7 linked regions of the Homo sapiens genome follow. The protein of the gene in region 4 purifies or fractionates together with the protein of the main gene of each other region. This does not show direct contact. Each region holds a gene or a part of one and is shown on either strand. Other genes may lie near its edges. The genes, in order: EIF3B, THOC3, DDX3X, NCBP1, LIN28A, UPF3B and KPNA4.

What was found.
Region 1: the proteins of NCBP1 (region 4) and EIF3B purify together in Homo sapiens (affinity purification with western blotting; 2 studies listed by BioGRID and IntAct, with this or other methods). This does not show direct contact.
Region 2: the proteins of NCBP1 (region 4) and THOC3 purify together in Homo sapiens (affinity purification with western blotting; 2 studies listed by BioGRID, with this or other methods). This does not show direct contact.
Region 3: the proteins of NCBP1 (region 4) and DDX3X purify together in Homo sapiens (co-immunoprecipitation; 2 studies listed by BioGRID and IntAct, with this or other methods). This does not show direct contact.
Region 5: the proteins of NCBP1 (region 4) and LIN28A purify together in Homo sapiens (affinity purification with mass spectrometry; 3 studies listed by BioGRID and IntAct, with this or other methods). This does not show direct contact.
Region 6: the proteins of NCBP1 (region 4) and UPF3B purify together in Homo sapiens (affinity purification with western blotting; 2 studies listed by BioGRID and IntAct, with this or other methods). This does not show direct contact.
Region 7: the proteins of NCBP1 (region 4) and KPNA4 purify together in Homo sapiens (co-immunoprecipitation; 3 studies listed by BioGRID and IntAct, with this or other methods). This does not show direct contact.

The regions. Positions count from the first base shown.
Region 1 is NC_000007.14:2,375,327-2,378,826, reverse strand, and holds part of EIF3B (eukaryotic translation initiation factor 3 subunit B), read right to left. Parts: intron 3,439-3,500; coding exon 3,300-3,438; intron 1,878-3,299; coding exon 1,752-1,877; intron 139-1,751; coding exon 61-138; intron 1-60.
Region 2 is NC_000005.10:175,962,174-175,965,315, forward strand, and holds part of THOC3 (THO complex subunit 3), read right to left. Parts: intron 2,983-3,142; coding exon 2,778-2,982; intron 1-2,777. UniProt on the Homo sapiens protein: Component of the THO subcomplex of the TREX complex which is thought to couple mRNA transcription, processing and nuclear export, and which specifically associates with spliced mRNA and not with unspliced pre-mRNA.
Region 3 is NC_000023.11:41,344,162-41,347,467, forward strand, and holds part of DDX3X (ATP-dependent RNA helicase DDX3X), read left to right. Parts: intron 1-77; coding exon 78-238; intron 239-1,018; coding exon 1,019-1,163; intron 1,164-1,242; coding exon 1,243-1,387; intron 1,388-2,067; coding exon 2,068-2,249; intron 2,250-2,343; coding exon 2,344-2,461; intron 2,462-2,697; coding exon 2,698-2,851; intron 2,852-3,150; coding exon 3,151-3,290; intron 3,291-3,306. UniProt on the Homo sapiens protein: Multifunctional ATP-dependent RNA helicase. The ATPase activity can be stimulated by various ribo-and deoxynucleic acids indicative for a relaxed substrate specificity.
Region 4 is NC_000009.12:97,647,321-97,650,820, forward strand, and holds part of NCBP1 (nuclear cap-binding protein subunit 1), read left to right. Parts: intron 1-171; coding exon 172-241; intron 242-687; coding exon 688-903; intron 904-3,182; coding exon 3,183-3,280; intron 3,281-3,500. UniProt on the Homo sapiens protein: Component of the cap-binding complex (CBC), which binds cotranscriptionally to the 5'-cap of pre-mRNAs and is involved in various processes such as pre-mRNA splicing, translation regulation, nonsense-mediated mRNA decay, RNA-mediated gene silencing (RNAi) by microRNAs (miRNAs) and mRNA export.
Region 5 is NC_000001.11:26,424,317-26,427,816, reverse strand, and holds part of LIN28A (protein lin-28 homolog A), read right to left. Parts: intron 2,515-3,500; coding exon 2,330-2,514; intron 1,576-2,329; coding exon 1,359-1,575; 3' UTR 1-1,358. UniProt on the Homo sapiens protein: RNA-binding protein that inhibits processing of pre-let-7 miRNAs and regulates translation of mRNAs that control developmental timing, pluripotency and metabolism.
Region 6 is NC_000023.11:119,842,964-119,846,463, forward strand, and holds part of UPF3B (regulator of nonsense transcripts 3B), read right to left. Parts: intron 2,334-3,500; coding exon 2,235-2,333; intron 339-2,234; coding exon 228-338; intron 1-227. UniProt on the Homo sapiens protein: Involved in nonsense-mediated decay (NMD) of mRNAs containing premature stop codons by associating with the nuclear exon junction complex (EJC) and serving as link between the EJC core and NMD machinery.
Region 7 is NC_000003.12:160,555,572-160,559,071, reverse strand, and holds part of KPNA4 (importin subunit alpha-3), read left to right. Parts: intron 1-3,500. UniProt on the Homo sapiens protein: Functions in nuclear protein import as an adapter protein for nuclear receptor KPNB1. Binds specifically and directly to substrates containing either a simple or bipartite NLS motif.

The sequences.
Region 1 (3,500 bases), on a different chromosome or scaffold from region 4:
CCGCCTTTGCCATGATGGCGGATGTCACAGCACAGCCCTCATTTTGGGAATGAGGCTCACCTTTGAGGCTTTGGACTGACTCAAACGATCCTTCTGTTCAAAGATCTTAGAGTATTTCTTCAGATCCTTTTTAATTTGCTGAAACAAAAGACCCATCACTCAGGATTTAACATTCAAAGCAACAAGCACAAATGCAATCTTCAGAGTTGCCAACATGACATGACACCCAAAGCCATTCACAGAACACAGCTTCCCAGGAGCGCTCGCATGCTCCTTTCTCCATGACACCCAGGGTCATTCACACAACACAGCTTCCCAGCAGCACTCGCGCCTGCTCCTTCCTCCATGACACCCAGGGTCATTCACACAACACAGCTTCCCAGGAGCGCTCGCGCCTGCTCCTTCCTCCATGACACCCAGGGTCATTCACACAACACAGCATCCCAGGAGCGCTCGCCTGTTCCTTCCTCCATGACACCAAGGGTCATTCACACAACACAGCATCCCAGGAACGCTCGCCTGTTCCTTCCTCCATGACACCGAGGGTCATTCACACAACACAGCATCCCAGCAGTGCTCGCGCCTTCTCCTTCCTCGACACCCAGGGTCATTCACACAACACGGCTTCCCAGGAGCGCTCGCGCCTGCTCCTTCCTCCTTGACACCCAGGGTCATTCACAGAACACGGATTCCCAGGAGAGCTCGCGCCTGCTCCTTCCTCCATGACACCCAGGGTCATTCACAGAACACAGCATCCCAGGAGCGCTCGTGCCTGCTCCTTCCTCCATGACACCCAGGGTCATTCACAGAACACAGCATCCCAGGAGAGCTCGCGCCTGCTCCTTCCTCCATGACACCCAGGGTCATTCACAGAACACGGCATCCCAGCAGTGCTCGCGCCTTCTCCTTCCTCGACACCCAGGGTCATTCACACAACACGGCTTCCCAGGAGCGCTCGCGCCTGCTCCTTCCTCCTTGACACCCAGGGTCATTCACAGAACACGGATTCCCAGGAGAGCTCGCGCCTGCTCCTTCCTCCATGACACCCAGGGTCATTCACAGAACACAGCATCCCAGGAGCGCTCGCGCCTGCTCCTTCCTCCATGACACCCAGGGTCATTCACAGAACACAGCATCCCAGGAGCGCTCGCGCCTGCTCCTTCCTCCTTGACACCCAGGGTCATTCACAGAACACGGATTCCCAGGAGAGCTCGCGCCTGCTCCTTCCTCCATGACACCCAGGGTCATTCACAGAACACAGCATCCCAGGAGCGCTCGTGCCTGCTCCTTCCTCCTTGACACCCAGGGTCATTCACACAACACAGCATCCCAGGAGCGCTCGTGCCTGCTCCTTCCTCCATCTTTCACTTTGAGACGGACTTTCTCCCTGGGATTTAACCCTCCTCTTTGCTCTGACCTAAGACCAACGGCCTATTTTACCACAATAATGTAAATCCCAGACAAGCCGCTTCTAATCCCAGCAGGACTTTTTAATGGCCCTGGCATCTTTTTATCCACCCCTCGGGTTCATGCAAAACTTCCCTAAAGAAGCTGAAAGCCTCAAGTTACTATCCTAAAGCTGTTCTATTCCATTCAGTTCTCACTGTTCCTGCGTCTCTTCAAAGAATCCTTGCAAATGTCACGTTTTTATCCCCCAGTCACCACCCTAACAATAACAGAAAAAACTGACACCTTTTCAACGCCACAATTGCCTCCATGTGCCCTGCACCCGGGGGTGGGGGCATGCTGACCTTGATCTGTTCCTGGCTCAGGAGTGTGGGAGGCCGGGGCCGCCACAGCAGCTGGCAGAAGCGGTCCTTGTTGTTCTTCTGCAGGAGGCGTCCCTGGAAAGTCCACAGCCAGTACGCGTTGTCCACCTAGGCCAGGGCAGGGACACACCAGGACACAGAGGGGTCAGAGAGCCACAACCGTGACTATGTCACTTGCTGAACAAGGTCCTGGGTATCGGGGACACGTGTGAAGCAAACAAAGCTCTGCCTGTGCTGAGCTGACAGCAGGGTAGGTGGGCAGTCAATGCAAGACACCTCCATTATGCAACCGACCCGGAGTGCGGGGCACGGAGCAGCTGGAGCAGCGCTCATCACAGCACAGGCCTGCACATTCTGGCTGGCAATAAGAACCCCATGCTGGATGTAAGCTAACTGCCTCACTACTGCGCCGCTGAACCCCGTGCTGGATTTAAACTGGACTGAACCCTGTGCCAAACGTAAGCTAACTGCATAGCACTACTCACTGCTGAGCCCTGGGCCGGGTGTGAGCTGTGCGGAGCCCTGTGCTGGATGTAAGCTAACTGCATCACTACACGCCGCCTAGTTCCGCTCTCCTCATGGCAGGCCTCTCTCATGAAGGAGGGCGCCTTCACTGGCACTCAGCATAAACTCCTTGTTGCAGGCCGGCATTTTGGAAGCTAAGTGTTCATAACTCAAGGAGAGTGGTCAACAGCTTAAAAAGTCTTTTTTTTTTTTTTTTTTTTAATGGGGCTAGGGTTTCGCTATGTTGCTCAGGCTAGTCTCAAACTCCTGGGTTCAAGTGATTTTTCTACCTCTGCCTCCTGAAGTGCTGGGATTACAGGTGTGAGCCACTGTGCCTGGCCTAAAGTGATTTCAAGTGTCAAGGCAGGCCCCACCGCAGTGACATCTGAACATACCTGGACACAGGCTGTGATCAACATATCCTGATTCGAATGCGAAGATTTCTAACTCTAGACACTTGCAGTAACATTTGGGAAGTTGATATTCCTACAAATTCTGTATCTCATTAAACAAAATTACCCGCGTTTGGTTTCACAGGCTCTATTGGCATGGACTAGTTCAAGTATCAGTGCCTCCATCAATGTTTTTACAAGTCACTAAATACTGAAAGTCCTTGACAAACTTAACCAGCAGTTTTGGAATACGAGTTGTGGGTAACGCGGCAGCTGGACTCAACCACTGACCCCAAAACAGATCTTAATGTCTGCGGTTATGGAACTCTGTTCAGACTTCAAAGGAAACGACTCCTCTCTGCAGACATTCTCACTCCTTTTCAGGGGTCCCTGGGCCCAGGGTAAGACCCCCCACCTCCCCGCAACCATGAGCAGGGGCTGCTCCTGCACTCGGCGCCACCTCTTCTACAACCCAGAATCCTCCTCCTCCTGCCACTAACACCAGCCAAGGCTTCTGTTCAACACAGAGGCTTGGTGCCCCTTCCCTGAGGTCCCAGGACAGCACCAGAGTCAGCAGCTAGCCAGCACTCCCTGCTTCTATCCACAGTCAAAACTATGCCCCACAGGCCTGCACCTTATGGCTCCACCAGGACACAGAGGTGACGACGTAGCGCCCAGTAGGATCCCATTCGACGTCGGAAGCCATGTAGTGCTCTGCGATGTTCATGACCGTGCAGTCCGAAGTGTCCACAAACGCTAAGGCACCGTTCATACTGCAAAGACAGACAGGACCGTCAGGCTTCATGGAGACGCATACCTCCTGGCATCCCACTCC
Region 2 (3,142 bases), on a different chromosome or scaffold from region 4:
AGCAGCAGTAATATTGTTGTTCTGAGACATCTATATGTTTACCATGGGAGATAGGTAATAAGTAACCATCGGATATTCTAATTCTATGATCCCCTGTGCCCTTGAGAACCAGAATACTCAATTTGGGAGGAAAGAAATATATTTGTAATATAGAAGAGGTTTAGTAAAATCCCTGGAGTCCTCAATTTTGATTGCAAGTTATCAACATGAATTCATAAGGTATTTTATCTTTAAATATATATATATATACACACACACACACACACACACGTAATTCCTAGGCCAACCCAGCAGTAATGAACATTCCTAACTTCAGTATCATTTCTCAGTAAAAGAATGTAAGGCTCCTTTTTTTTTTTTTTTTTTGAGGTGGAATCTCACTCAGTCGTCCAGAATGCTGGAGTGCAGTGGTGCAATCTAAACTTACTACAACCTCCGCCTCCCGGGTTCAAGCGATTCTCCTGCCTCAGTCTGCCAAGCAGCTGGGAATATACACGTGCGTCACCACGCCCAGATAATTTTTGTATTTTGAGTAGAGACAGGGTTTCTCTATGATTGCCAGGTCTCAAGTGATCCACTCGCCTCGGCCTCCCAAAGTGCCAAAGTGCTGGGATTACAGGCGTGAGCCACCGCACCCAGCCAGAATGTTAAGGCTTCTTGGAGAATGTTCTGATTAAAGGTCTGGGGCAAGAAATGCACAAGATGAACTTGGAACATCTTATCAAACCAGAGAGCAAAAAAACAGAAGACGATGGGATTATGTCAAAAAAGGTCTCAGGAACCAACTTGAAGAGGTTCTTATTGGCCAAAGATGGGATAATTTGAGCTTCAACAGGCGTAACAATTACAAGAGATGGAAACACACCAACTATGTTTAAAAACATCAGCCCGTAATGATTCTTTAAAAAAAAAACACCTAACTGCTCATCTTTGGAGGTAGCAGGAAACAAAATCATTATCTGACAAACAGAATCAAAATTTTATCCTGCCTTCCCTACATGAACTACACTACTGGGTAACCAAATCGCAGATGAGAAGCAGCATCTCTTTACACAACAGTCCAACACATAAACAGCATATGGAATCAGCAAAAGCCAAACTGGGAGAATCTCCACAGGTTAACAGTCTGGTTTTTCAACAGCTACGTTTTCGGAAGTTTCTTTTGAGTAATTTAAGAGATACAAAAGACATATCAATTTTTTTTTTTTTTAATGAGCAAAACTAGGGTATCTAGGGGCTGCACATGTGGTAGATAAACTATGAAGAAACACTATAAAAGTCAGGATAGTGTTTGCTTTTGTGGAAGGAAGTTGTAATTAGGACAAATCACCTGGATGGACTTCTGGGATGGCTGGAAAGAACTACTTCTCAACTTGGGCGGGGTTGCACAAGAGTTAAGCCTATAAGAGTTCATTAAGCTATACATTTATTTTATGTGGTTTTCAATATCTGTGTTTTATAATAAAAAGATTTTTCTTAAAAAGTTATAGAATCCCCATTGCCTACAAAATAAAACCCAAGATACTAAGCATAAAATAAAGGCCTTTTATAATCTGGTCCCAAATTAGACTTCATCTTCCCATTATCATGCCCTCTCTTATTTCCCTTATCTGCCACCACTCCCCCAACAACCCTGACCTAACCACTCTCCAAGTAAGTCATGCTCACTCACACCTGCTTTGTCAGTTATGTGGTTCCCTTTTGCTTATTCTTAAAATTCTGCTCATCTTTCAAGATCAAGCTCACAAGCTCCCTCCTTCAACCCCCCATATAGTATGTCTGTTCTTTCCGTGGAATTTCACAGCAAACTCCTGGCCTCCCACTCACAGAACCTATCTCACTTGGTCTTGCATTGTTCACCTGGGATAGTGGAAGGCTAGAATTGAACAGACCTGAATTTCAGCTCCACAGTTTCATTCATTTACAGAACAAATATTTACTAAGATCCTACTACGTGGAGCAGGTACAGGACTAGACATTAGGGACTCAACACTAAACAAGGCAAACACCATCCCTACCATCAAGGAATTCACAGTCTAACAGGAGACACAGGCAAATAAACATGCAATTACAATATAGAAAGAAAAGTGCTTCCTACAGAAAGTATATAAAATACGCCTCTAACCTACCTCTAACCTTGGGGTAGCGGGGGAGCTTCCCTGAAGGCAAAGTGATATTTCAGTTGAAACTTTAAGAGTACGAATTAGCCAGAGGTCGGGCTAATCACCTGAGGTCGGGAGTTGGAGACCAGCCTGACCAACATGGAGAAACCCTAAACTACAAAAAATACAAAATTAGCCAGGTGTGGTGGCACATGCCTCTAATCCCAGCTACTTGGGAGGCTGAGGCAGGAGAATCGCTTAACCTCGGAGGCAGAGGTTGCGGTGAGCCAAGATCACACCATTGCACTGCAGCCTGGGCAACAAGAGCAAAACTCTGTCTCGAAAAACAAAAAAAAAGGGAGTACGAATTAGCCATAATTCAAGGTGCATCCAGTTCTAGCACACACTAGCTGACTACTGATGTAACCTCTCACCCTCAGATCCTCATCTGTCAAATGAGAAGCAAATCATCAACCCCTAGAATTTCTGTAAGGACTCAGTAAAATATAAAGTATATAAAATATACAGCTCAAATGTACTTAAGACAGGTTAGGATTCTCTCTTACTATTTGTGTTTTAAGCTCCTTCAGGATAGGCTCACATCTAATTCATCTCCATATCTGACACAGCACCCAGCACAAAGACATGACAGTCCCCTAAGCTAGACCCCCTCACCTGAGGATGTTGATACAACCATTGCCATTTGTCAGGAAGAACATATTATTGTCATTGTTCCAGGAGATTTCGTTGACCTCGAACTTGAACTGCTCTTCTGCTTTGGAACGGTGTGTCTTGGCATCAATAAAGGTCACCACATCATCCTTGTTGCCTACAGCAATGGTCTGCCCATCAGGACTCCAGCAGATATTAATGTTCTCCCCTGGGAACCCAGACATAATCAGCAAGATAATCTGTTTGCTCATAATCTTCCACAAGTTTATTGCACTATCCTAGAAAGAAGACCAGAGCTTTCTTCCGGGCTTACTCATTAAAGTCCTAGACAATGGAAGGGAGCTACCACTTATGATTCAACAATAAGT
Region 3 (3,306 bases), on a different chromosome or scaffold from region 4:
CATTGATTCTAATTAAATGTTTTATGAACATGTAAAAATTTTGACCTTGAAGTTCATAACATTTTTTTTGCTTATAGTTTTCATACCGATCTAGAGTTCGTCCTTGCGTGGTTTATGGTGGTGCCGATATTGGTCAGCAGATTCGAGACTTGGAACGTGGATGCCATTTGTTAGTAGCCACTCCAGGACGTCTAGTGGATATGATGGAAAGAGGAAAGATTGGATTAGACTTTTGCAAGTATGTTTTATTTTGTTTTTGTTTTTTTGTTTTGTTTTGTTTTGTTCTTTTGTTTTTGGCAGAGTTGCGCTCTTGTTGCCCAGGCTGGAGTGCCATGGCGCGATCTCGGCTCACCACAACCTCTGCCTCCCGGGTTCAAGCGATTCTCCTGCCTCAGCCTCCCAGGTAGCTGGGATTACAGGCATGTGCCACCACGCTGGGCTAATTTTTGTATTTTTAGTAGAGGCGGGGTTTCTCCATGTTGGTCAGGCTGGTCTCGAACTCCTGACCTCAGGTGATCCGCCTGCCTTGGCCTCCCAAAGTGCTGGGATTACAGGTGTGAGCCATCGCACCCGGCCAAGTATGTTAATTTTTAAATGTATGGGATGCAGTATTAAAGTTACTGCCCATTAGTTTTGTGGTGATGTTAACATTGTCTAAATGTTAAGGCTGAGAAGTGATGTATTTCAGACATCTAACTTTCACAAAAAGCTTGTTCATGGTAATTTTAATGTTGAAAAATCAGTAACATCTTGGTTGAGACTTACAACAATGATCAGCTCGTGGGACAGTCAACTAGGATGGGCTAATTTGACTGTGTAATCTTGAATGACTTATGTAGTGGCAAGAATCCTGTGCTGTGTCTGTAAAATTATGCAGTGTGAGGCACCATCTTAATGAATATATAATTGTAATAACCTATACAATTGTATTTGTAATTATACTAACAGCCATACTAAAACCATGTTGATTTCTCCTCAAATTCTAAACTCAGGCTTGTTTTTTTTCATGACATGACAGATACTTGGTGTTAGATGAAGCTGATCGGATGTTGGATATGGGGTTTGAGCCTCAGATTCGTAGAATAGTCGAACAAGATACTATGCCTCCAAAGGGTGTCCGCCACACTATGATGTTTAGTGCTACTTTTCCTAAGGAAATACAGGTACTGTTTGATGTTGCAAATTTTATTTATTTAGAAATTTGTTTATCTCAGGTAATAATAAAAATTTTTTTTCTTTCAGATGCTGGCTCGTGATTTCTTAGATGAATATATCTTCTTGGCTGTAGGAAGAGTTGGCTCTACCTCTGAAAACATCACACAGAAAGTAGTTTGGGTGGAAGAATCAGACAAACGGTCATTTCTGCTTGACCTCCTAAATGCAACAGGTAACATTATGAATTTTTTATTTTATTAGACATGGGGGTTTCTCTTTGTTGCCCAGGCTGGAGTGCAGGGGTTATTCACAGGTGTGATCTCATTACTGATCAGCATGGGAGTATTTGACCTGCTCTGTTTCTGACCTGGGCCTGTTCACCCCTCCTTAGGCAACCTGGTGCTCCCTTGCTTCCGGGAGGTTACCATGTTGATGCCAAACTTAGTGTGGACACCTGATAGGCATAGTACACTACAGCCCAGAACTCCTAGACTTAGACAATCCTCCTGCCTCAGTCTCCAGAGTAGCTGGGACTACAGGCACTCACCACTGCACCCAGCTAAAATTATGAATAATTTAATTGCTCTGGTAATAACCCATTTGGGCTGGGTGCAGTGGTACAGTGCATGTAGTCCCAGCTACTTGGCAGGCTGAGGCTGTAGTATGCCATGATTGCACCTGCGAATGGCCAGTGCACTCTCAGCCTGGGCAATTTAGTGAGACCCCCATCTCTTAAATGTATTTGGATTACCTTTATTACTTTTCCTCCTCAATTCAAAACATGCTGTGTTGAAAGCCCGTTTTTAAGAAGATATATATGTATTTTAATTGACACATTAAAATTGTGCATACATAAGTGCAAAGAGAACTAAGCCATGTTAGTGACAAAAACCTATAATTTTTCAACGACAGGCAAGGATTCACTGACCTTAGTGTTTGTGGAGACCAAAAAGGGTGCAGATTCTCTGGAGGATTTCTTATACCATGAAGGATACGCATGTACCAGCATCCATGGAGACCGTTCTCAGAGGGATAGAGAAGAGGCCCTTCACCAGTTCCGCTCAGGAAAAAGCCCAATTTTAGTGGCTACAGCAGTATGTATAAACATCTTTCTTTTATTCAAATTGAGCATGTTCAAGTATTTGTTTTCTTTTAAGTGGGCCATATCTCATAAAAGTTATTTTCCAGGTAGCAGCAAGAGGACTGGACATTTCAAATGTGAAACATGTTATCAATTTTGACTTGCCAAGTGATATTGAAGAATATGTACATCGTATTGGTCGTACGGGACGTGTAGGAAACCTTGGTAAGTATTTGATTACTTGATGGTTTCATTGTTTTTTGCTGTGATGTGTGCAGGAAAGAACTTGCTAGGATCTAAAATACATTTTTAACAATGAAAGTGACAAAGATTTTGCTCAAAGCACTTGTTTAAATATTACGTGGTAATATTTTAAATATTTCTACGTAGGAAAGTAAGAATAGTAGCAAGTTACTTTATGGAAGACCTTTGTTTATATACTTTTTTGGGAACTCTTTTAGGCCTGGCAACCTCATTCTTTAACGAGAGGAACATAAATATTACTAAGGATTTGTTGGATCTTCTTGTTGAAGCTAAACAAGAAGTGCCGTCTTGGTTAGAAAACATGGCTTATGAACACCACTACAAGGGTAGCAGTCGTGGACGTTCTAAGAGGTGAGGTATAAATAGTATATAATGAGGGGAATGGGTGTTCACTTACAGTTCATAGTGTTTCCTCTGCATGCATAACGTCCAAGGTTAACTGTACAGTATTTAAAAAGCTTAATCATCTTAGGCTTCCTAGATTCTTTGGTAAGGGGTTGTATTAGAATGGGTGACACTCTGTTGGGGAAAATATGGCTGGATGGGGAATTGTTTGAATGGAAAAATTAGAAATTGGTCATTAGGAAAGAGTTAGGTTACTTTAGTGGAATTTCATCTTCATGTGAACCAACATAATTTTTTTCTTATAGTAGCAGATTTAGTGGAGGGTTTGGTGCCAGAGACTACCGACAAAGTAGCGGTGCCAGCAGTTCCAGCTTCAGCAGCAGCCGCGCAAGCAGCAGCCGCAGTGGCGGAGGTGGCCACGGTAGCAGCAGAGGATTTGGTGGAGGTAGTGTTAATCTGTA
Region 4 (3,500 bases):
TTGACCTGCATCTTGATGATACACAGTACATTATCAAAACAGTTGATATCTGCCACTCCAGTAGGTAAAATGTTATTTCATTGCTTTAATTTGCATTTTAATAACTGTGAGGGTGACTGAGCATCTCTTGTTTTTAAAAGCCTAAATGTAGATTTTCATTTTTATCTTTAGAAGACGCCAAAAGACTCATGTACCCATGTTACAGGTATGGACTGCTGATAAACCACATCCACAAGAAGAGGTAAATGGATTTCAGTCCCTTGTGATACAAACACAGTCAGCTCTTGAATAGATTCTTATCTCTGTAAGATACTCAGACCATTCCATTTTACCCTTTGACTGTGTTTCTACATTTCATGATAGTTCCTTCTCATAGCTCAAGGTGTATGGTAGGTCTTTAATAGATGATAGAATGTAATTGAAATATTCCCTTGTTCTTTGGAATGCCAGCTATTACAGAGTTGACATATATTTATTTAAATGCTTAATTTGAAAAATGTCAAAACAGACAGTTCCAAACAGGTAGACTTTGTAAGTAAAATAAAAACAAAAACTTAGCACCTTTTTTTGTACCATCTTACAAGTTAGCTTACTTTTGTATCCTGTATTTTAAAGGGTAGTGATTTTTTCATTTTGTCTAGTCAAAATGTTAATTATATTAATGATTAAAAATTAATCTGTCTTTAGTATTTAGATTGCCTGTGGGCCCAGATTCAGAAATTGAAAAAGGATCGCTGGCAGGAACGGCACATCCTAAGACCTTATCTTGCCTTTGACAGCATCCTGTGTGAAGCACTGCAGCACAATCTGCCTCCTTTTACACCACCTCCTCACACTGAAGATTCAGTGTACCCAATGCCAAGGGTCATCTTCAGAATGTTTGATTACACAGATGATCCCGAGGTAAGTGACCGACTAAAAGTCCTAGATATTGACCTGTGTTGCATTGTGCTTGTGGGTTAATCCCGCTTGAATTATGCCTGTGGTATGTTTTAATTTTGAGTTGTTTTTATCTAAGAAGGTCAGTAGCAATGAAGTTAACTTTTTAATTCAGTGAATGATATCACCTCATTATGCAAGAAATTATATTTGGCATGTGTAAATAGATTACAGAGACGTGCACAGTTTGCAGGCTAAGAGTGTGGGTTTTGGGTTTTTAGAGCTACGTTGGTTTGTGTTTTAATCTTGGTTTAGCCAAATACTAGCTGTGTTAATTTGGGAAGGTTATTTACCTCCCTGTGCTTTCATTTCCTGAAGGTAATAATAATAGTATACATCTCATAATAGTAGTATATATCTCATGTTATGAGGATTAAATTATTCACATGTAAAATGCATAGAACAAGAACAGTGTCTGTCACATGATGAATGCTCAGTCATTCTGGCAATTTTTCTTTCTTATTTTTTTCTTTTCGAAATGGGGTCTTACTTTGTTGCCCAGGCTGCAGGTGAGATCTAAGCTCACTGCAACCTCTGCCTCCTGTGCTCAAGCGATCCTTCCACTTCAGCCTCCTGAGTAGCTGGGACCACAGGCATGTGTCACCTAGCCTGGCAAATTTTTTGTAGAGTTGAGATTTCGCCATGTTGCCCTGGTTGGTCTCAAACTCCTGGGCTCAAGCAATTCGTCCGCTTCGTTTTCCCAAAGTGTTGGGCTTACAGGCATGAGCCACTGCACCTGTCCATAATTATACTTAATAAGGTTATTTCTCAGTAAAAGTACCTAGTTTTAGGTATGGTCCCTCTCTAGGCAACACAGCCTGTCTTGTGATTATTCATATTGTATGATTATTTGAAAACAAATGTTGGAAGTATTTTTAATTAAAAAATTCCAAAGATTAGTCTAAGCTGACTTTATCATTTTTAATATACATGTTCTTTATTTCAAAGTCAAGTTTCCTGGCAGCCATTGTACTGTTATAATTGTATATTGTACAATTAAGAAAATTTATAATTTTCATTGTGGGTACTATCCTGTGTATTGTAAGATGCTCAGCGGTGTCCCTGATCTCTACCCTCTAAATGTCAATAGCACTCTCCCTGCCTCAGTTTTGACAACCAAAAATATCTCCAGAGAGTGCAATATGTCCCCTCAAGAGCAAAATTGCCCCCAGTTGAAAACTATTGCCATAAAAATTAATATTACCACCTAAGTCAAATTTGAGTTTCTTCTATTGTCTCTTTTCTGTTCTATGGTAAAGTGCTAATGACCAGTAGGAATTTAGTATATATGTAATCTATTTTGGAATAAAAATTTCTCAGATAATCAGTTACATATACAAAATTATCAGCTTGCTGCCGTCTTTGCTATATTCCATATGTAACCAAATACTTTAGTCAAAATTATGTAATGATCTACTTAGATATGTCTAACTGAAAATCTGGTTTACATTTAAGACTGCTAATGTTTGTGGTCGGGTATTTTTTTTTTTTTGTGCAGGGGAAACTAGAATGGGACCTCAAAATTTGTTTCTCCTGAATTTGTATTTAATTGGTATCACCTCTGTAAGGTGCATATCCATCCCTTGCTAGAAGAGTATAAATATATAAAATACATATTACTCCCAAAACGAACAGGATTTTGTTTCTGTTCTGGCCTTTTACAAGTTGTTTATTAAAAAACATTAGAAATTGTAAAAAAAAGATTAGAATCATCCAAAAGTCATTATTAAAGGTTTATTTTGTGTGTTTTGAACCTGTTTGCTATGAATATACTTAAGAATAAAATAATGCCATGTAGGGAATATGTTTTGAGCTTAGACAGTATATTATGGGCATTTTTCAATTCATGCATGACTTTTTATGGCTATGTGGTGTTTGAATAGAATTTTCTCTCTGCATAGTTATTAATGGAAATAATTCACTCTCGGTTTAAAAAATAAACTCTGTAAGACTTGTATTATCCAAAATTATTTAGTTTCATATAATAATTGGTGTGTAAAGTAGGCAGTGGTTGTATGGTTAGGTATGAGATGTGGTAGAAAAAACACTACAGCTGATACTCTGGGGTATAAGTGAACATGACAATGGAATTTCCTGAAATATAGAGCTTTAACACTTCAGAACTTTTATCCCCATCACCCAGTTTAGTGCTTGGAACATAATAGTCTCTCAAATATTTGTTGAATAAGTAAAAGAAATCTGTTTTCTAGGCCTGTAGTGTACACATTTGGTTTTCTTTCCAGGGTCCTGTCATGCCAGGGAGTCATTCAGTGGAAAGATTTGTAATAGAAGAGAATCTTCACTGCATCATTAAGTCCCACTGGAAGGAAAGGAAGACTTGGTAAGATTCTTTTCATGGTACTTTTAGAAGGGAGAGAAGCAGCAATTTTGATAATTCAGTAAGAGCAAAATATATGTTGAGAGTGTAAGAAAATTTTATCCTCCTGACTCCCTGTCTTGCTAAAATCAATTTCTAAAAACACTTGCTTTACTTTCTCAAGGCTCTTCACCCTTGTATAGTACTTTTCGAGGTGCTTTATAGTAATAAGCGTATGATGCCA
Region 5 (3,500 bases), on a different chromosome or scaffold from region 4:
ACCCGAAAATTTTGAAAGGTTAAGGATCTCACCTTACTTCATATATCCATCCCTCGACAGCACAGGATTAAGTACAGGGGTATTGGTCTTTAAACTTATCCTTAGCAACTCTAGTTTTACAAACACACACACACCCTGTGGCACATGGTAGGCCTAACCTAATCTGGTGAAGAACAGATCTGGAGATGTAAAGCACGTCCTGTGCCATAGGATTAGACAACCCTCACCTAATCTTGGCTTGCTCTCTGGCCTTTTCACCGGGCCCAGCCTCTCCTAGCCTCTGTGTACCACCATTTCCTGTTTAGACTAATTCCCAATCTTCCAGTAGAAGGCAATCAAGTCATGGGGCCACCCAGTTAAAACCTAGTCTCCCATAAAACATTTTCAAGGCAGAGGGGGTTTCAAGAGGACACTATGGCAGAAAAGCCAGCTCTTATTGGCAAAAATGAGGTAGTTCAATAGGCTGTGCACTCCAAATAGTTGCTCTCCACGGTGGCAAAAACAACAAAAAGTAATTCCTGCTGCGCAGACCTGGAGCTGCTGCTGGCTATCCCTGAGATTGCTCATGTACCTGAGAACACAGTGCAGGAAATGAGGGCCTTAGATTAAAATATACAAAAATACAAAACCAGAATATTTATATTAAGGAAAAAAAGTTAAAATGCACAAGATACGTCATTCGCACACAGCTAGTGCAGTTGGCATCCTGGAGAAAGTGGGACCCAAGGTGCAGTATCCAAGGGAGCAAATAAATAAAATCACATTGGCCCAGAATGGGGCGGGGGTGAGCATAGAGCAGCAGGTCTGCAGCTGTTCCCCCAAACACCCTTTTTGCCATCATCATTACCCATTGCTTGGGACAGCTGCCAGCACCCTATCCCAAAAGTGGGTATGAGGATACAAGATGTGAAAAAAAAACAATGCTTACTCCTGAGAGATCTCCTTCCACAGAATGTAGTGGCTTGGCTCCATGAATCTGGTCTTATACTTAATCATTTCACTCTGGCATGGGAATTATTATATATCCTTCTTTAAAAGGAAAACAACTTCCCTATCCAGGCCACTTTCAAAAGCTGGAAATTCTGGGGATGGAGACTCAAAGTATGCAGGTTGTAGGGTGATTCCCCCCTCCTGGTTGCCCCCAGAACCCTCACTTGCATTTGGACAGAGCATGGTTGGAGTTCCTTTGACTCACCCTTTCCCCCCACCTAGAGGGAAGAAAGGGTGATGGTGTGAACCCAAGCCTGAGATACATGGCAGTGCCAACTAGCCCCAATGCACCCTATTCCCACTTTCTCCACTCTGCCTGCTCCTCAAAACTTCCTGATAGCAAAAGAATAGCCCCCACCCATTGTGGCTCAATTCTGTGCCTCCGGGAGCAGGGTAGGGCTGTGGATTTCTTCTTCTTCCTCTCGAAAGTAGGTTGGCTTTCCCTGTGCACTAGGGCCCTGCTGGGCCTTCAGCGGACATGAGGCTACCATATGGCTGATGCTCTGGCAGAAGTGGCACTTCTTGGGCTGGGGTGGCAGCTTGCATTCCTTGGCATGATGATCTAGACCTCCACAGTTGTAGCACCTAGTACAAAGCAAGATCGTAAAAGTAAGAGAAAGGAGCAAGAAGAGGCCAGATGCCTCCCACGAATGAGGACACCTGGGCTCTGGTACAGGTTTGTCACTTACTTCCCTTCCCAGAGACCAAACTTCCCACTTGCAAAAGGAGGACTATTACTAAATGATCTCTAAGTCCTTTCCACATCTAATTGTCTAGGTGATCTCTTCAGATTCATGTCAACTTGAAAATACCAAGATACCAGAAATATAAGTTACTGACCCCAACTAGGAACTGCAACTTGGGGGATAGGAGAGATTCTTCCATACCCTTAATATAGGAGAAATTAAAGAAGCCAAATTATAGTATCTGTTCAGAGCTAAGGGGCTTTAAGCCCAAGCAAGATTAAGGAAACCAGCCATTTGCAGACCTGGTAAAGCAGCAACAGATATAGATAATACTGTCTTGTCCCACCATTTGCAAATCTATGATCTCCTTTAATTCTAAAACCATCCTAGGATGTTAGTATCACTGCCTCACTTAACAATTGAGGCTTAGAGACCACAGAGCAAACTTACTTGTCCCAAGTAGCACTAAGTCACCCCCAGTGGCCTCCTCACCTACTGCCCTTGCCCACACCTATTGCAGGCGCTCAGCCTTCCAGATGCTGCCAGGGACCACAGGCTTCCCTTTGTCTTTTGCAGTGTGACCCAAAAAGTGACAGGATTGGGAGACTGGGGATGCCCTTAGCAACCTATATAAGCTGCCTTCCAATCCATACCTGTCTCCTTTTGATCTGCGCTTCTGCATGCTCTTTCCTTTTGGCCGCCTCTCACTCCCAATACAGAATACTCCACCAGGTCCGGTGACACGGATGGATTCCAGACCCTTGGCTGACTTCTTAAAGGTGAACTCCACTGCCTCACCCTCCTTCAAGCTCCGGAACCCTTCCATGTGCAGCTTACTCTGGTGAAGGGAAATGCAGTAAATTTTAACATTAATTTCCATTATTATACCAAAAGACAAGGAACTCTTATTCCTGTAGGGTAGGAATCAAATGTGATGGTACTCCTATTTTACTGGTAAGGAAACTGACTCAAAGAGTCACTACGATTAAGAACAACAAAGTCTACCAGTACATTAACAAAAATCGTAATTATATAAGCAGATGCCATGACATTTTTGTAGCTATTCAGGTTTAAAGTTCTTAATAAAATAGAACAGAGGGCCGGGTACGGTGGCTCACACCTATAATCCTAGCACTTTGAGAGGCTGAGGCGGGAGGATCACCTGAAGTCAGGAGTTCGAGACCAGCTTGGCCAACATGGTGAAACTCTGTCTCTACTAAAAATAAAAAAAATTAGCTGGGCGTGGTGGCGGGCACCTGTAATCCCAGCTACTTGGGAGACTGAGGCAGGAGAATTGCTTGAACCCAGGAAGCAAAGGTTGCAGTGAGCTGAGATCACACTATTGCACTCCAGCCTGGGCGACAGAGTGAGACTTTGTCTCAAAAACAAACAAACAAACAACAACAAACAGAAAAATTTGTAAATACAAGCATTTGGAAGAAATCAACAAATATAAAATTACGAAATTTAAAGTGTCACACTATAGAGGTTGCAGTGAGCCAAGATGGCGCCTTTGCACTCCAGCCTGGGCAACACAGCAAGACTTCGTCTCAAAAATAAATAAATAAAATAAAAGTAAAAATAGCTGGGCATGGTGGCTCAGCCACACACGGTGGCTTACGCCTTTAACCCCAGCACTTTGGGAGGCTGAAGCAGGTGGATCACGAGGTCCAGAGTTCGAGACCAGCCTGGCCAACATGGTGAAACCCTGTCTCTACTAAAAATACAAAAATTAGCCGGGTGTGGTGGTGGGCGCCTGTAATCCCAGCTACTTGGGCAGTTGGGGCAGGAGAGTTGCTTGAACCCCGGAGGCAGAGGTTTCAG
Region 6 (3,500 bases), on a different chromosome or scaffold from region 4:
TTGTATTTATATTACATTTGTGTGAAACTAAATAGGTCAAAGAATTTTTCCCACTTTAATGGATTCTCATAATGCTGTGAGGCAGGTATTACCATCTGCAATTTACAGTAACAGTCTCAGAGAAACTAGTAACTTCCCTGAAGTCACACAGCTAGCAACTGATGGAGGTAGGAGACTTAGGTACTGTGATGAAAAGACTGTTGCCCTGATTCTTTTTGCCCACTTACCTATTAATTCTCTATTTTTTGCTTCTATTTCCTCTAGCAGTGTCTCTGGAGTAGATGTCATTTTCTCATTATCTGTGGCATAACTTTCCAAAAACTTTCTATATTCTGGATCTAAATAATCATTTGAGGAAACAGAAAATATAATAGACTTTAAACAAAAAAAGAAGACATTATCTACAATACTGATTTATCAAAGAAGATAATTTTTTACTTCGTGGAAGATTAAAAAAAACCAAACCATACCCACAAGGTAGACTATTTAGAGCTTAATTGGTCACTTGCTCTCAGGACTCCTATCACTGATACTCACTATAGGAATCTGGTATAACATGGGGTCAGGAAAAATGAGACGCCATGCATTATAACAGAACCACTAGGGGTATTACATAGTTTGCTTTTAAAAGTCACTGTCCTACTAAACTAAGTTAGGTGTTCCAAAAAGATAAATTAGAGAGAAGTCCTAGATGTGGCACTTGAGGTGATGGGAATTCCTGGAGTTCTCTCCTAGACCTCTAACATCAGAAAGGGTGACACATCTAAGCCATTATATTGCTTGTTTCTATGTGTCACTTGATCAAGTCTTCCAGATCTAAATCTGTAATAAAACCAGTATCACAGCTATGTGTTATTGAGTCCTTACCGTGTTTTCTTTATAAAATACCTGTAATAGTAACAAATGATGGAAATTAAACTAGATGATTCTAAAGTAACAATCTGATATAAAATATGGTCCTAGTCCTTATCCAACATAAAGAGTTGTGTAACAGCTATCTAACATAACATTACAGAGGTCTCAAAATCTGGAGCCAGTGTACCTTAAATGGCAATTATTTTGGTTTTTCAGTTCTTGTATTTCTTTCTTTCTTTCTTTTTTTTTGAGACGGAGTTTTGCTTTTGTTGTCCAGGCTGGAGTGCAATGGTGCGGTCTCAGCTCACTGCAACCTCCGCCTCCCGGGTTCAAGTGATTCTTCTGCCTCAGCTTCCCAAGCAGCTGGGATTACAGGTGCCCGCCACCATGCCTAGCTAATTTTTGTGTTTTTAGTAGAGATGGGGTGTCACCATGTTGGCCAGGCTGGTCTCGAACTCCTGACCTCAGCAACTCTGCCCGCCTTGGCCTCCCAAAGTGCTGGGATTATAGGAGTGAGCCACCGCGCCTGGCCTCAGTTCTTCTATTCCTGTTCAACCTAATACTATGTGTGTAGCTAATTGTATATCCAAAGACCAGAAAATAGGAGTGACAACTTCAGCTACTTTATACAAAGTTACCTGGGTATGGAAATTTTCCCATGACAGTTCAAACCTTCTTCTTTATAAATATAATGGAAACCAAAAGTCAAATAAATAATCATAAAAATGGTGAGGCCTCAAGAAGCACCTGTTAAACTTTGAAACCTGATTTTTTTCCACTATTTTCTTTTTCTTTTTTTTTTGAGATGGAGTTTCGCTCTTGTTGCCCAGGCTGGAGTGCAATGGTGTGATCTCAGCTCACTGCAACCTCCGCCTCCTGGGTTCAAGAGATTCTCCTGCCTCAGCCTCCCGAATAGCTGGGATTACAGGCATGCACCACCATACCCGGCTAATTTTATATTTTTAGTAGAGACAGGGTTTCTCCATGTTGGTCAGGCTGGTATCAAACTCCTGACCTCAGATGATCCGCCCGCCTTGGCCTCCCAAAGTACTGGGATTATAGGCGTGAGCCACCACGCCTGGCCTTTCCACTATCTTCTAATCAATAAACCTATGGTGATTTGTTACTCAATAGTCAACATTATATTGTTCAATGGTTGAAGAATGAAATGCCCTAGCCAAAGAGAGCAGAGATTCTGTGCAAGAAACTCTCTCTAGTCTAACAATTAAGCAAAGCTTCCATCGGCAAATAACATTTCTCACTTACTTTATTTTGTATATTTTCTAATTTAAAATTTTGGGGTCGAATTAACTCTCACAAAGATATTATTTTTAAAAACCCCACAGCAATAGCATTATATAATTAGAGCTATACTGTACCATCATCGATAGTCCCGACTTTGGTATCTCTTTTCTTAGTCTTCTTTTTTGCAGCTTTTTGAAAAGGTGCAAATTCTACTATAGCGGGATATTCCTGACCTGTTTAGAAAAAAAATACCACACTTGCTATAACAAAGAAAATGTCAAAAGTGGATATAAGGGAATCAACCCATTGCTTTCTATGACTCTTTTGATGGCAGTCATCTGAAGAGGGTCTCCCAAAGGCATAAAGCACACTGGCACAACCATAATCAACATACTACAAAAGGAGCCACAAATTCACACTGATAACATAGTGAAACAACACGGCATGAAAGTAAAATATTCATATAAATTCAACTTATAAAATGTGATATTTTAATGTGAAAAAGACCCTACAAACTATTTTTCATTTTAAAATGTTAGAAATCTCCAAAATAGGCAAATCTATAGAGACAGAACGTAGAGTAGTAGCTGCCTGGAGTTTGGGGTAGAAGTGGTGAGAAGAATGAGGAGTGACAACTAATGGGTGGGGTTTCTCTTAGGGGTGATGAACATGTTCTAAATTTAGATTGTGGTGATAGGCTCATAAGCCTATGAATATACTAAAATTCACTGAACTGTATACTTTAAAAGGGTGACTATTTCAGGCATGTGAATTATATCTCAATAAAGCTGTTATTTTTTAAAAGTGTAACTATTTGAGGTGATGTGTTATGTGAGGTGATGAATGTGTTAACTTGATTGTATATATTTCATAATGTATATATGTATACATTATGTATACATTTCATAATGTATATATGTATACAATATGTATACATTTCATAATGTATACATTTCATAATGTATACATATATAAAATTATCACGTTGGGCTGGGCACCGTGGCTTATGCCTATAATCCCAGCATTTTGGGAGGCCGAGATGAGAGGATCACCTGAGGTCAGAAGTTTGAGACCTGCCTGGCCAACATGGTGAAACACTGTCTCTACTAAAAATACAAAAATTAGCTGGGCGTGGTGGCACGTGCCTGCAATCCCAGCTACTCTGGAGGCTGAGGCATGAGAATCACTTGAACCCAGGAGGCAGAGATTGCAGTGAGCCGAGATCATGCCACTGCACTCCAGCCTGGGCGACAGAGTAAGACTCCGTCTCAAAAAAATAAATACATAAAAATAAAAATAAATAAAAATACAAAAATTAGCCAGGCGTGATAGTGCACGCCTGTAATCCCAGCTACTTGGGAGACTGAGGCAGGAGAATCACTTGAACCTGGGAGGCGGAG
Region 7 (3,500 bases), on a different chromosome or scaffold from region 4:
GTTCACAACTCAGTTGCACAAGTACTTTTTCCTTGAGACAGTCGTCCTTAAGTAGAAGTTGGTATGCAGCAGAAGTGGCTTATATGTAATCTTCATTTTTTTCACACAATTAGAAAAGGCCAATATTTAATAAAAGTAATCATTTTTTACTGTTTCCTCAAGGAATTCTTAAGTGAGCTGACTTTTAAACAAATTTTAGATGTGAAATCAGTGACAACTATTGCATCTTGATGTCATTACCTTAATTCATTCTAAAGCACCAGCAGTCTTACCCCTATGGCATCAATTCAAGTGTTAATACAATTTTTTTTTTAAAAAAAGTATTAGTATTATCATTAGGAAAATAGTTTTGACCCTGTGTACTCTCTGTAAAGGTCTCAGGACCCACATAGGGGCCCGTGGACCATGCTTTGAGTGCCACTCTTTTAGTTTACCATTGCTTCTTTTGCACATGAGTGTCACTTTTAATTAATACAGGCTCTTAAAGGACCTTATAGTATAGGGGTTAAAAGACATGGACTGTAGAGTCACTTAGGTCTGGGTTTGAACTCTGGTTTCTCCACTTAGTAATTATGGAGGCTAACTTAATTATGTCTAAGCCTTTGAAATGTTTAACAATGCCTAGCATAAAGTACATGCAGAGTAAATGGAACCTCTTACTATTTCTGCCAACTTACATAGTCATACATTGCATCCAAGTAAACCCCTATGTTCCATATCAGAATAACATTTTGCTTACAAAATTCCTCTTGTACCTCTGTGTGCCATAATCCAAACCACATCATACAAATTTGGGAAGGCTTCTTATTCCCCTTATTTAACAGTCACCTGAAAACCTACTTTCTCCCACATACTTCAGCCAAATTGTCACATACATACTAGTTTATGACTTCATTTCTTTAATCCTATGTTTTAAGTGGGTTACTAAATGCTTTATGTAGATTTTGTCACTGTTTTCTCAAAACATTGTAAATATAATCAGAAAACAACTATAATTCACACTATTTAGTACCCAGAATGAAAATGATTTAAGGTCATAGATATTTGTTGGTAATACAAGATTAAGTTGATTATTAAAGATGCTAAACTTTCCCAGGCACAGTGGCTCATGCCTGTAATCCTATTGCTTTGAGAGGCTGAGGCAGGAGGATTGCTTGATACTGGGAGTTTGAGACCATCCTAGGCAATATGGTGAGACCTTGTCTCTACAAAAAAATAAAAATAAAAAATTTAGCTGGATGTGGTGGCACACACCTGTAGTCATACCTATTTAGGAGGCTGAGGCAGGAGGATCGCTTGAGCCCAGAAAGTGGAGGCTGCAATGAACTATGACCATGCCACTGCACTCCAGCCTGGGTGACAAGAATGAGGTCTCATCTCAGATAGATAGAAATTTTTAAATGCTGACTTATTTTCTATTACTGTTTATTTACTATTCGGACAAAATTTAGTCACCTGTCATTTTTTCCCTAAATTTTTATTTACTTTAAACTTAATGTAAATTAGATTTTAACTAATGATGTATTTTGACAAACATGGAATTTCATGAATTTTTTTACTAACAAAAGTCGGAATCCTAAGATAGTATGTTTTTTACTAGTTCAGTGATGGACATATTGTCTAATATTAGAAGGTAAATCATAGTCTATCTCAGTGTCCTGTTCTTTAATAAAAACTTTAGTTTGCACATATCTACTCTTTATGTTTTTTAAAGTATGTCTTTCTGGACCCTTGAGGTAAGTGTTACATAAATTTATTTAGTTGAGTAGTTTTATCCCGAAAGACCTATGTTAAGTGGTCTCTGCTTGGTTGTATTAAATGGCCCTGTCCTGTTTGCCACCTGTTCTTCCTCTTCACACTGGCTTTTTAGCCACTTTAAGCTGTTACTGGTCCAGAAAAACAAGCAAGATAATACCTTAAGGTTTTCAAATAATTGTTAACATCACTCCTTGTTCTTTAGTAGGTGTGAAACCCAAATATTCTCCAGCTCTTTTTAAAATAGTGCAGAGGATTTGGTTCCTTGAGGCCGGGAGTTTGAGACCATCCTAGGCAGTATAGTGAGACCTCATCTCTACAAAAAATAAAAAATTTAGCTGGGTGTGGTGGCACACACCTATAGTCCTACCTATTTAGGGTAGGTTTGGTTCCTTATTTCACTTTTGAATATTATGTGGAGATGTTCATTTTACTACAGATATATCTATAGAATTGGGTTCATTGTTGATCAGCTGTTTCAGACACCTTAAATTTGTTCACGTTTTTTCTCTTAATGTTGTGAATAATTTTTCCCAATTCCCTTTTTATTCTCCAGCTTTAAAACAATGACAGTACAGGTTGAGCGTCCAAATCCAAAAATCTGAAATCCACAATGCTCCAAAATCTGAAACTTTAAGCACCTACGTGATGCTTAAAGGAAACACTCATTGGAGCATACCAGATTTTGGATTAGGGATGCTCAGTCTCTAAGTATTATGCAAACATTCTAAAATCCAAAAAAATCCAAAATCTGAAACACTTGTGTTCCCAAGCATTTCACATAAGGGATACTCAATGATGAAAAGTTTAATTAAGACCAATAAACAAATAAAAAATAGGATCCGCCTCATTAGTCATTAGGGAAACACAGCTCTAAAGCATGATGAGATACCACTTTACACCCACTAGGATGGCAGTATATAAAAAGAAAATAACAGGTGTTGGTGAGGATGTGGAGAAAGTGGAACCCTCATACATGCCTGATGGGAATGTAAAATGGTACGGCTGCTTTGGAATGCAGTTTGGCAGTTCCTCAAAAAGTTAAACAGTTAACATGTGACCCAGCAGTTCTACTAATTAGATATAAATCCAGGAGAATTGCAAACATAATGTCTGCACAAAAACTTGTAAATGAGTGTTCATAGCAGCATTATCCATAACAGCCAAAAGAGGGAAACAACTTGGCTGGGCGCAGTGGCTCACGCCTGTAATCCCAAGCACTTTGGGAGGCCAAGGCGGGCCGGATCACCTGAGGTTGGGAGTTGGGAAACCAGCACTACCAACATGGAGAAACCCCGTCTCTACTAAAAATACAAAATTAGCCAGGCATGGTGGCGCATGCCTGTGATCCCAGCTACCTGGGAGGCTGAGGCAGGAGAATCACTTGAACCCAGGAGGTGGAGGTTGCAGTGAGCTGAGATCGGGCCATTACACTCCAGCCTGGGCAACAAAAGCAAAACTCCTTCTCAAAAATAATAAATAAATATAAATAATTTAAATAAATAAAATAAAAGAAGGAAACAACCCAAATACCCATTAACTGATGAATGCACAAAGTATGGTATATGCATACAATGGAGTATTGTTCCGCTATAAAATGAAGTATAATAGTTCACCCTTATCTGCAGTTTTAGTTACCTGCAGTCAACTGTGATCAGAAACTAGGTGAATATGTGATACAACAAGATATTAATATTTAGAGAGAAAGAGATCCCACATTCACATGACTTTTCTTACAATATATT